Homo sapiens: one gene and its partner. The protein of the gene in region 1 purifies or fractionates together with the protein of each later gene. This does not show direct contact. Each region holds a gene or a part of one and is shown on either strand. Other genes may lie near its edges. The genes, in order: SON and CPSF6.

Region 1 (4,248 bases):
AATACTGGTTTAGTCTAGATTTCATAAACCCTGTTTGCTTTTTTCTTCCAAGCTCAGTAGTTAAGTTGGGTTAGAGTATAGTAGACCAGCTGCTGACAATAATGTTACTTCTTCCTGTTGCCTTGTGTTAAGGCATCTTGGAACTGTTAGCATTGACTGTATTTTCCTTTTACCTTCAGATACCTGGGCAGGGCAGCACTGTGTCTTCTATGTAGCTTGTATGTAGTTGCTAAGTATTTAATCATTCCCACAGATGATAGCTAATTGGCGTCTTTTAAATAACTTCTTCCCTTGGAATAATGTAAGTGGAATCATGAGAGGCTTGCCAGCTCAGTATGATTTTTGTATAGCTTGTTTAAACCTCATTTATAAAAGCTGACAAATGTAAAACTGGGATTTATTTTCATCTTTGTAATCAAACAGTAAGTTGAAGCTAACTTCAATAGTTAAACTGTCTTAATGAATTTGGAAATGAACTAGCTCTGCACCAAATACTTTGATGTTAAGTATTGTACAATTTCAGGAAGCATTGTCCTTGGAATTGTGGGACATGGCCTGACTGTAAGCTCTCAGAGAACCACAGATTTCCCAGGATAGGTTTAGAAAAGCTTATATTAGCATGGAATTATTTAGCAAAGGTTGAAAAATTTCCTGTAACATACAGGATGAGCATCCCACATCTGGAAACCTGAAATGCTTTAAAACAGAAAACTTTTTGAATACTGATATGATGCTCAAAGGAAATACTCATTGGTGCATTTTGGATTTCAGCCTCTTCAGATTTGGGATGCTTGACCGCTAAATACAATGCAAATATTTGAAAACCTGGAATCAACCGACACACTTCTGGTCCCAAGCATTTTGGATAAGGAATACTCAACCTGTATATGAATTGGGAAAGCAGTGTTTGGGTTTAGCAATGTAGCTAATCCCCTTTGTAATAAGTCTATGGAGAGAGAGGTTATGTAGAAAGGTTATGTTCATATTTTGAGAACATCTCCCATTTGTTAGGAAGGGAGAGGAGAGTTTGCTAGGAAAAAAGGGACCTATTTTATTTGGAGACAACCGTTTTCACCTTTTTGGTGGCTTAAAATCCTAACCTTTTTTGGAAGAGTCTTAACTGAAGCTTATTTTTTTAAGAGACAGTAAATCTGCAGAAATCACTTGGCAATAAGCTATTTTTTTTCTTTTTTTGAGATGGAGTTTTGCTCGTTGCCCAGGCTGTCAGTGGCACGATCTTTACTCACTGCAACCTTCGCTTCCAGGTTCAAGCGATTCTCCTGCCCCAGCCTCCCGAGTAGCTGGGATTACAGGCGCGCACCACCACGCCCGGCTAATTTTTGTTTCTTTAGTAGAGACGGGGTTTCACCATGTTGGCCAGGCTGGTCTCAGACTCTTGACCTCAGGAGATCCACCCGCCTCGGCCTCCCAAAGTGCTGGGATTACAGGCATGAGCCACTGTGCCTGGCCATACTTAACTTTTTGTTTTCTGTTTACATTTGGTATTTATTACAATTTCTCATACCAAGATCTATGAATATTAAATATAAATTTATATGCTGAAAAACAGTAAAAGAGAAGAAAGAGAAGATTGATAGAGAAATCGAGTGTACTAGGAATCTGCTGATTTTATTTGAAGGCATACATTTTGAGGTTCAGACTCCTACAGAGGGATCTTTGTTTTAAAGTGGTGCTTTGAAATTTATTTAGTGAACAATTTTTTTTTAAAGGTCTTGTTGCAGTAGGAGAAAGAGCACAAAAGAGGTCTGGGAACTTCTCTGCTGCAATGAAAGATCTGTCAGGTGAGAGCACGTTTTTGAATTTCCTCTTACCCTAATCCCACCTTGAATTCATTATTTGTTGCAGAAGTTGGTGGAAATAATTTAAAACTGGGTATTTCTCCCCCCTGCAGGCAAACATCCTGTGTCTGCTTTGATGGAGATCTGTAATAAAAGAAGGTGGCAACCACCTGAATTTCTATTGGTCCATGATAGTGGCCCTGATCATCGCAAACATTTTCTCTTTAGGGTAAATATGAATTTCTGCATTAATTATATATATTTATTAATGTGATGACTTAGAGGGTGAGGGGTAAACATGATCACAGGATTAAGATTCTGTTCATGGGTGGGGGGTTTGTATTTGTAGTTAAGTGGTGGGGTTTTTAAACACTGAAGGGTGCTTTAATACGACTTGTCAATGTCCTATTTTTTAAAAAATTGGAAAAGGGTAAAATATAGTATACAATTGTTATTTTCTAGTTGAATGTGGGGAATTAATTTAATACTTTTGTCAGTCTTTTTCTCAATTTGGAGACCTGCTCTAATTTGCAGTCCCTTTCCCAAATGATTTGGTTCTTCGGGTTGAGATTATAATTTGACTTACATAGTATGGGTTTTATATTTTTGTAAATTATTTTTCTAGCATTTAGTGAAAAAATACAAAGCTAATAGATATTAAAGTTTGATGCTGTTCTTATTGTATGTTTTTCTTGAATAGGTATTGAGAAATGGAGCCCTTACCAGACCCAATTGTATGTTTTTCTTGAATAGGTATTGATAAATGGAAGCGCTTACCAGCCCAGCTTTGCCAGCCCTAATAAGAAGCATGCTAAAGCCACAGCAGCTACTGTGGTTCTTCAAGCAATGGGCCTTGTACCAAAGGACCTCATGGCTAATGCCACTTGCTTCAGGAGTGCCTCACGTAGATAGATTGAGGTTTTATAATAATCATTTCAGAATTTTACTCTGCATCACAATGTATTTCCTCTTTAATGTTGTAAATATTTGGCAATTTAAGACATTGTGTAAAAAGCAATCTGTAAAAACATCTCCAGGCTTTGATTTTTGTACCATGGAAATTGTATTTAACCATACAGGGTTTTGGTATGTTTATATTGTTTACCTTAGTGATGTATTTGTTTAAGTGGCTAACATCCAAACGACTGTTTGAAGGCATCAGAGTAATCTTCAGTGTGGAATGTTAAATAACGCTTTTATACTGTATTTTGTACTATGATGTAACTCCCCTTCCTTATGGCTAGGCTACTGTAACACTTGCCTGTAATCAGTGAAGGGCTGTGCACCTTGTACTATTTCACAATGGGTTCTGCTGGACAGATAATGGGCCAGTGTTATTGAGGTGATCAAGATCTGTTCCACAGGGCTAATGCCACCATCTCCCCTCAAAATTTTGTAGAGGTTCTAAAAAGAAAGTGGTATGTTGTGTGATGATCAGCACTAAGTCCTGCATTCCTGTTAAAGCCACTTGGGTCATAAGAAGGGAGTAAAAAATGAAGTCTGACTAGAATTCTATTGCAGAGGCCAGTACATTTAGTATGGCATTGAGTTGTGATATAGTTTTACTTTGATGTGCATTTTGAATTTCAGCTACACCTAGATAGACGTAAAATGATAATTAAAATGCTGTAACCAACTTATCTAATAAAATTGGCAACCAGCCACTATTTTGTTGACTATGAGAAAGTTAAAAGTTTATGTTAATTTTTAGGGTCTGATAGAATATTTCATGTGTATTACAGTGGTATTCATATGCTATGTCTCTAAACTTTATTTTCAAAAGCTTAAGGCCCAAATACAAACTTCTCTGGAATAAACGTGGTGTTTTATTTTCTGGGTTATAAAGTGAACAAATACTTAGATACTATTATTTCTTTACCCAATGCTTTTGATTTTTAAGCACTTTTATTTTAAAAATGTGAATTATACAGTCCCCCCCTACACACACACACACACACACACACACACACACACACACACACACACACACACACACACACACACACACACACACACACACACACACACACACACACACCCCTATAAGCACATTAAATACTACTTTGCCGTGACAGCTCAGTGTACTTCACAATTCTTAACACTATTCTATGTGGAATACAAAATGCCTTTTTATCTGAATTAACATGCATTTAAAAAGTTTTAGTATATGTGAAAATAAAGGAATTATAAATCAGTAGGAAAGATATTAAGGTAGAAGCATCACCAATCAACTAGCTCAGTAGATGTTGTCTGTATTTATTTTCTACCTTTATGAAACAAGAACCTGCTAACAGGTAAATCGTAAAGTAACATATTTTTGCCCTGATGCCATTAGTCACAATGCCATGGGGTAACTGCTATGTGATTTCCCATTTGCAAGGAAGCATATTAATTCAGTTTCTGCTCAATATACAATTAGGTTGTAGGGATATAGATATCTCATTTGAGT
Region 2 (7,304 bases), on another chromosome or scaffold:
GCAGAAACTAATTTGGGGATAGATTGAGAATAATAAATTAGTGAAGCTCTAATAGAGTGCCTTTCTTCACCAGGTGAACTTAAGAATGGAGAATGAAGGGGGGAGGAGGCACAAGGGACTGGCTACTCCTTATGGGTTCTCTTTAGTTCTTAGAGGTCTTTGGATGTCACCAAGCTGAGAACAGCTGGAAGGGGAATTTGAACATCTTCCAAACCTCTCTATTACTTGAAGTTGAGAAGAAAGTGATTCTGTCTCACAGTAGCATATCAATTCAGTTTAAACTGCATTTATACTCAAGTGTAGTAATTACTAGCCCAATATTTAGTAATTGTAGATTTTAAAATTCTGGCCAAAACTAAATAATTTAAAAGTTGAATTGTTTAGCGCGAGTGTGGTGGCTCATGCCTGTAATCCCAGCACTTTGGGAGGCCAAGGTGGGCAGATCGCTTGAGGTCAGGAGTTGCAGACCAGCCTGGCCAACATGGTGAAACCCCATCTCTATCAAAATACAAAAATTGGCCGAGTATGGTGGTGCCTGCCTGTAATCCCAGCTAATCAGTAAGCTAAGCAGGAGAATCGCTTGAACCTGGGAGGCAGAGGTTGCAGTGAGCCAAGATCGGGCCACTGCACTCCAGCAAGACCCTGTCTCAAAAAAAAAAGATTGAATTGTTCAAAATACATTTGTTGAGTGTCTGTTATGTGCCAACAACGAGGGATACAAAGTTTAGGTAGTCTCTACCCTTAGAGTACACTGTAGGGGAGCTGAGAGATACCTACATACAGTAGTGCACACGTATCCACAGTTCCACTTTCTGTGGTTTCAGTTACCCGTGGTTCTGAGGTCTGAAAATATTACATACAATAAGGTAGTTTGAGAGATACTATATTTAGCTAACTTTTATGACAGTAAACTGTTCTACAATCATGTGTCGCTTCACGATGGCGGTATGTTCTGAGAAGTCCATCTTAGGTGCTTTTGTCATTTGTGATCATAGAGTGCTTTTGCATTTCAAACCTGGAAGGTACAGCCTACTACACATGTAGGCTATATGGTGTAGCCTGTTGCTCCTAGGCTACAAACTTGTACAACATATTACTGTACTGAATACTGTAGGCAGTTGTAACACAGTGGTATTTGTGTATCTAATATATCTAAACAGAAAAGGTAAGTGAAAATCTTGATATAAAAGATAAAAAGTGGCACACTTGTGTAGGGCACTCATGAAAGGAACCTGCATGATTGGAAGTTGCTCTGGGAGAGTCAGCAAGTGAGTGGTGGGTGAATGTGAAGATCTGGGACATGCTGCTGTAGACTTCATAAACACTGTACAGTACACTCAGGCTACACTAAATTTATTTAAACTTTTTTCTTCAATAATACATGAGCTTACTGTAATGTTTTCACTTGATTGATTATTTTCTCACTGTCATCCAGTCTGGAGTGCGGTGGTGCAGTTGTGGCTCACTGCAGCCTTTATCTCCCAGGCTCAAGCAGTCCTCCTGTCTTAGTCTCCAGAGCAGCTGAGACTACAGGCATGTGCCACCATGCCTGGCTAATTTCAAATTTTTTTTGTAGGGATGAGGTCCCAGCTAGTCTCCAGCTCCTGGGCTCAAGCTGTCTTCTTGCTTTGACCTACCAGTGTTGGGATTACAGGCGTGAGCCACTGTGACTGGCCCGTTTTTACTTTATAAATTTGGACTCTTCAATAATAACAGTTTAAAATACAAACACATTGTGTAACTATATAAAATATTTTCTTTATATCCTTATACTGTAAACTTACTTCTTTTTTTTGTTTTGTTTTGTTTTGAGATGGAGTCTCGCTTTGTCACCCAGGCTGAAGTGCAGTGGCGCGATCTTGGCTCACCGCAACCTCTGCCTCCTGGGTTCAAGCAGTTCTCCTGCCTCAGCTGGGATTACAGGCACTCACCACCATGCCTGCCTAATTATTGTATTTTTAGTAAGAGACGAGGTTTCACATGTTGGCCAGGCTGGTCTCGAACTCGTGACCTCAAGTGATCCTCTTGCCTTGGCTTCCCAAAGCGCTGGGATTACAGGCATGAGTCACCACACTGGGCCTAAACTTTTTTCTATTAAATTTTTTTTTTTAACTTTTAAAATTAATTTTATTTTAGAAGAGACAAGGTCTTACTGTGTTGCACAGGTCTCAAACTCCTGGCCTCATGTGATCCTCTTGCCTCAGCCTCCCAAAGGAGGCTGGAATTACAGGCATGAACGACTGAACCTGGTCTTTTTTTTTTTAAGCTTTTTTTAAAAACTAAGATATACACACATTAACCTAGGCCTGCACAGGGTCAGGATTATCAATATCACTGTCTTCCATCTCTGCATCTTGTCCCACTGGAAAGGTCTTCAGGGGCAGTATGATGCATGGGCTGTCATCTCCTAGGATAACTGCCTTCTTCTGTAATACGTGGTGAAGGACTGACTTGCCTGAGGCTGTTTTACAGTTAACTTTTTGAAGTAGGAAGAGTACACTCTAACATAATGATTAAAAGTATGGTATAGTTGGCCTTGGTGTGGTGGTTCACACCTGTAATCCCAGTGCTTTGAGAGCCTGAGGCGGCAGATTGCTTGAGGCCAGGAGTTCGAGACCAGCTTGGCCAACATGTCGAAACTCCGTCTCTATTTAAAAAAAAAAAAAAAAAAGTGTAAAAACAAAAAAGTATAGTATAATAAATACATAAACCAGTAACACAGTCGCTTATTGTCAAGTATTGTGTACTGTACATAATTGTATGTGCTATTCTTTTATATGACTGAGAGCACAGTAGGTTTGTTCACACCAGCATTACGAGCCCAAACGTGAGGAATGCATTGGGCTAAGATCGCTAAACAATAGTAATTTTTCAGCTCCATTATAATCTGACCACCTGGACCAAAACATTGTCATGCATGACTAAATTGTTCTCTTTTATTAGTTATTTTTTACAGTGCCTACTTTATAAATTAAACTTTATCGTAGGTATATATAAAGAAAAACATAGTATATTTAGGGTTCCTTGCTTTCCGTGGCTTTAGGCATCCACTGGGGGTCTTGGAACATATCCCTCTCAGATAAGAGGGGACTACTATAATTATAGCACACTGACAGGTCCTATATTGTAGTTACCATTCTTTTATGTTTTATGTGTAAAGTTTTGTTGATCTGGAGAGGAAAGTCAAAAAAATTCTGTGAACTTTAGGGAAACTTACACTGCTTGCATTGAAGTAGTATGTTTTGTTGCTTGTTTGGGAGTCAGAAACTCTTAATGTGGAATTTAGTTTCTGCTCTGTCAGGCCATCACCGATAGCACAAATTTAGTAATCTGACCACCCAGCTTTAAAATGGAAGTGTAGGCCAGGTGCGGTGGCTCATGCCTATAATTCCAGCAGTTTGGGAGGCTGAAGTAGGCGGATCACTTGAGGTCAGGAGTTTGAGACCTGCCTGGCCAACATGGCGAAACCCCTGTCTCTACTAAAAATACAAAATTTAGCCAGGTATGATAGTGCACACCTGTAATTCCAGCTACTTCAGAGGCTGAGGCAGGAGAATTGCTTGAACCTGGGGGGCAGAGGCTGCAGTGAGCTGAGATCAGGCCACTGTACTCCAGCCTGAGTGACAGAACGAGACTTTGTCACACACAAAAATAGATTAATTACTTTTAAAAGAATGGAGGTGTATAGAGGCAGTAGTTGGAACAAAGAATTCACTTAGGAGTTACGGACCTGGACATCCGATAAGTCAGTTTTTATGTCATGAATCATTTTGCTTTACGTTCAGTCATTATGTATGTATTCTAGCCAATTGTTGAGCCAATTAATGAAAATAAATTTCTTGGACAAATATCAGAGAAACATTGTTTATGATTTATTTATGTTTACTAGAAAACCATCTGAAATAAAGCTGTCAGGTTGAGAATGAGCTAGGTAGAATTGATTCAGAAAAATGGATAGAAATGTTCAGGGAAGCTAGAACTCTTCTCTATTTTGTTATTTATGGGTGCAGTTAATTTAGTTGCCTGTGAATTGTCCACTATGGTTTATGTGGCATATTTTTAGTACCAAATTCCTTACCATTATATAAGGAAGGGATTTTTACAGGGATTACTAGCCAGTTTTAATAACTACTGAGAACATAATTAGATAAAACCAGAAAATGATATATTTTCTTTAAAAATGTATGCATTAGGTTATCTGCTATTGGATTTTGCATACTAGTATTTCTTTTCCGAGGTATAGGATATATTTTGTAAATGCAAAATGTAACTTCCCCCCTTCATATATTTCTCTAAATGGAAATAATTTAAAATAGGCTTTGAAACAAGTGGCCTTTGCTGTGCATTTACTGATAGTATCATATAATGCACGAATTTTGTATGTATTTATGTATTTTTATGGTAGAGATGGGATCTTCCTAAGTTGCCCAGGCTGGTCTTAGACTCCTGGGCTCAAGGGATCCTCTTGCCTTGGCCTCCCAAAGTGGTGGGATTAACAGGCATGAACCACCATGCCTAGCCTCGAATGATATTACTGTAATTTTAGAACCATCAAAAAAATATCAGGCCTGTCAGGGAGAATGATGAATATTTTGACAGCCAACAAGTTCATCCCAATAGTGGTATACAGTATGTATCGTATATCTGTGATATTAAAATTGTAAGAGGGGTAATTAGGGAAAAAATGTCTAAAAGTAACTTCTTGAAGGGAGGGAGGAGACAGGGATAATGAAAAGGTTGAGAAGCCATACTTTAAGGGAACTAATAGGATTTTGGTCATTTTGCCATCCATTTTCTCTGGCTTGGCAACAGATATTTGTATATCATGTGGAGCATAATCTTGTTGTGTAAAATGTTGAGAGAATACCTTGTCTAAAGAATGATTGTAGTGATTTAGAATGGTAGGGAATGAAAAAAATTAGTGAGTTTTTTTTTTTTTTAAACAAACCCTAAGAGCTGTTGTTTATTCCAAGCTTTATGTAACATAGCTGGCTAGCTACTATGAACAGCAGATAAGATTGGGCAACATTTGGTATCAAAGATAATTAGAGGAATGATGTTGATATTTTCTTGTTTTTTGAATGCCATTAAAATTAAAAGTAATAATTGAAAAGACCCTTCATGTAATAAAAAATGATACCGTGAAATATTTCTTTGACAAACTGGAAACCTTTTTTTTAGTCTGTTCAGTAGGCTCACAGAGCTTTATTTATATATGACCTGTGATATACATTTTGCATAATTTCTCATGCAAACATCATGCATATTTTCTCACTTTATGAAGTAAGAACAAAGTTCAGTATGTTCTGTATTTTTTTTTACGCTGGAGGATTGATGTGATATGAAGCTGATTAAAAGGAAGGTTACTGATAACTACAAAAGAGTGTGCTTTGAGTTTCATTTTTAGTAATGGCAGCAAATGTATTCAGATTCATTATGTTTTTTCACAAAGTTTAAATGTATACCATTGGGGCTAAGTGTACAGGCTGTGGCCTTGGAACAGAGAGAAGCTAACTAGTCCACATGGAGATCAAACCCCAGGACCATGGTCTTAATTAGGATCGTACTACAACCACTTGGAAGCAGTACAACTACCAGACAAAATGGCTGATCCTAAATATTGGTAGAATCATATCAATGTGGAAAATTGGTTTGTGTCAACATAGGAATTCATGGATGGACAAAAATAGTAAGTGATTGTGATATACCAGGTTAGTGTAGCTGCAATTATGCTTGTAAATTTTTTGTCTACTTATGTAAACATTTTCACAGGTTTGTAGCTAATAGAAGAAAACAAAGAATCTGTTCACCTATTTATGTAAGTGAAAGTGTAAATTTAAAAATACATTTAGTCCTGCTGTTAATAACCCTTCCATTCTTTTTTACTTTCCCTCAGACCATATATTGTGATTATAGTTTCTGCTGAGGAGGATGGAAACTCAACTCCCTTTGAATAATATTAGTAATTCTACTTGATGTTCAGAACCGGATTGCAAGAGAGTTTAAAGTGCCCAACACCCCTTGTGGGAAACTTTTTAGTATCTTAAGTGCATGGAACTACTGCTGCAGCCACACCGCCTGAAGCTTCAGCCACACTGAAACTTCATAACAAAACTTACCCTCTTTTTTCCTAATTTCTGTGGTCATTGCAATTTGAGCATGTTACTTTGTTTAACAAAAACTCATTTCTTAAAGATTATTTTAGTATTGCTGTACAAACAGAATAAAATTATGGCATTATTCAGTGACTTGTGGTCTTAGTTTCTGCCCTTTGTTAAATTTAGCTTTGTTCTCTGATTTAACCTTGAGATCCCAGACCCCTTATTAAATAAGTCTTATAGACATTCTACCTCGTAACAAGTAAAATTGGTATGTAAAGATTCTGTAACTAGTAAATTGGATAAGTCATTAATTACATAAACGATTACCTGATGATTACTTGAGGTCCCTTTATTTAGGAATATAAATGATATTTCCCCTACTAGGCTTTTTTCTTTTTCTTTTAAAAAGATCTTATTCTCGGCCGGGTGTGGTGGCTCACACCTGTAATCCCAGCACTTTGGGAGGCCGAGGCGGGCGGATCACGAGGTCAGGAGATCAAGACCATCCTGGCTAACCCATCCTGCCTAACACGGTGAAACCCCATCTCTACAAAAAATACAAGAAATTAGCTGGGCAAGGTAGCGGGCGCCTGTAGTCCCAGCTACTCGGGGGGGGGGGGGGGGGCTGAGGCAGGAGAATGGCGTGAACCCAGGAGGCGGAGCTTGCAGTGAGCCGAGATTGCGCCACTGCACTCCAGCCTGGGCGACAGAGCAAGACTCCGTCTCAAAAAAATAAATAAATAAAAATTAAAATTAAAAAAATACAAAATAAATAAAAGATCTTATTCTGGCTCTCCTTTAAATAGCAAAACAGTAGCCTGGGCCCATAATATCTTGTTGCTCTGTTTACCATCATATAACAAATGCTTTTCTCTGGGTCATTCTATCCATTTAGGGACTATTTTGGCTAATAGTCCCTAAAACCATTAGCTCCTCCATATGTGCCATTTGTATAATTCTTTAGTAAATTGTATTAATGGGAGAATCTGTAAGTTACGTCTGAACTTTCAGGTTGTCTTATAATTGTCTTTTTCCTTATGTCAGATGTTCTATGTCATAAGAATAAAATGGTTCACACCAATACAAGTACTTAGTTGTGGAAAGGGAGAGTAGAAGATAAAAATGGAGATTTTCCTGTGCTACAGGCTTAGTCAAGCTTATGGTCTATTTAATGGTTATCAAAGGCAATTAAATAGTGTTGAG

Evidence for each region.
Region 2: the proteins of SON (region 1) and CPSF6 purify together in Homo sapiens (affinity purification with mass spectrometry; 2 studies listed by BioGRID and IntAct, with this or other methods). This does not show direct contact.

What each region holds. Positions count from the first base shown.
Region 1 is NC_000021.9:33,573,866-33,578,113, forward strand, and holds the end of SON (protein SON), read left to right. Parts: intron 1-1,730; coding exon 1,731-1,802; intron 1,803-1,912; coding exon 1,913-2,028; intron 2,029-2,499; coding exon 2,500-2,559; 3' UTR 2,560-3,616; downstream 3,617-4,248. UniProt on the Homo sapiens protein: RNA-binding protein that acts as a mRNA splicing cofactor by promoting efficient splicing of transcripts that possess weak splice sites.
Region 2 is NC_000012.12:69,242,444-69,249,747, forward strand, and holds part of CPSF6 (cleavage and polyadenylation specificity factor subunit 6), read left to right. Parts: intron 1-7,304. UniProt on the Homo sapiens protein: Component of the cleavage factor Im (CFIm) complex that functions as an activator of the pre-mRNA 3'-end cleavage and polyadenylation processing required for the maturation of pre-mRNA into functional mRNAs.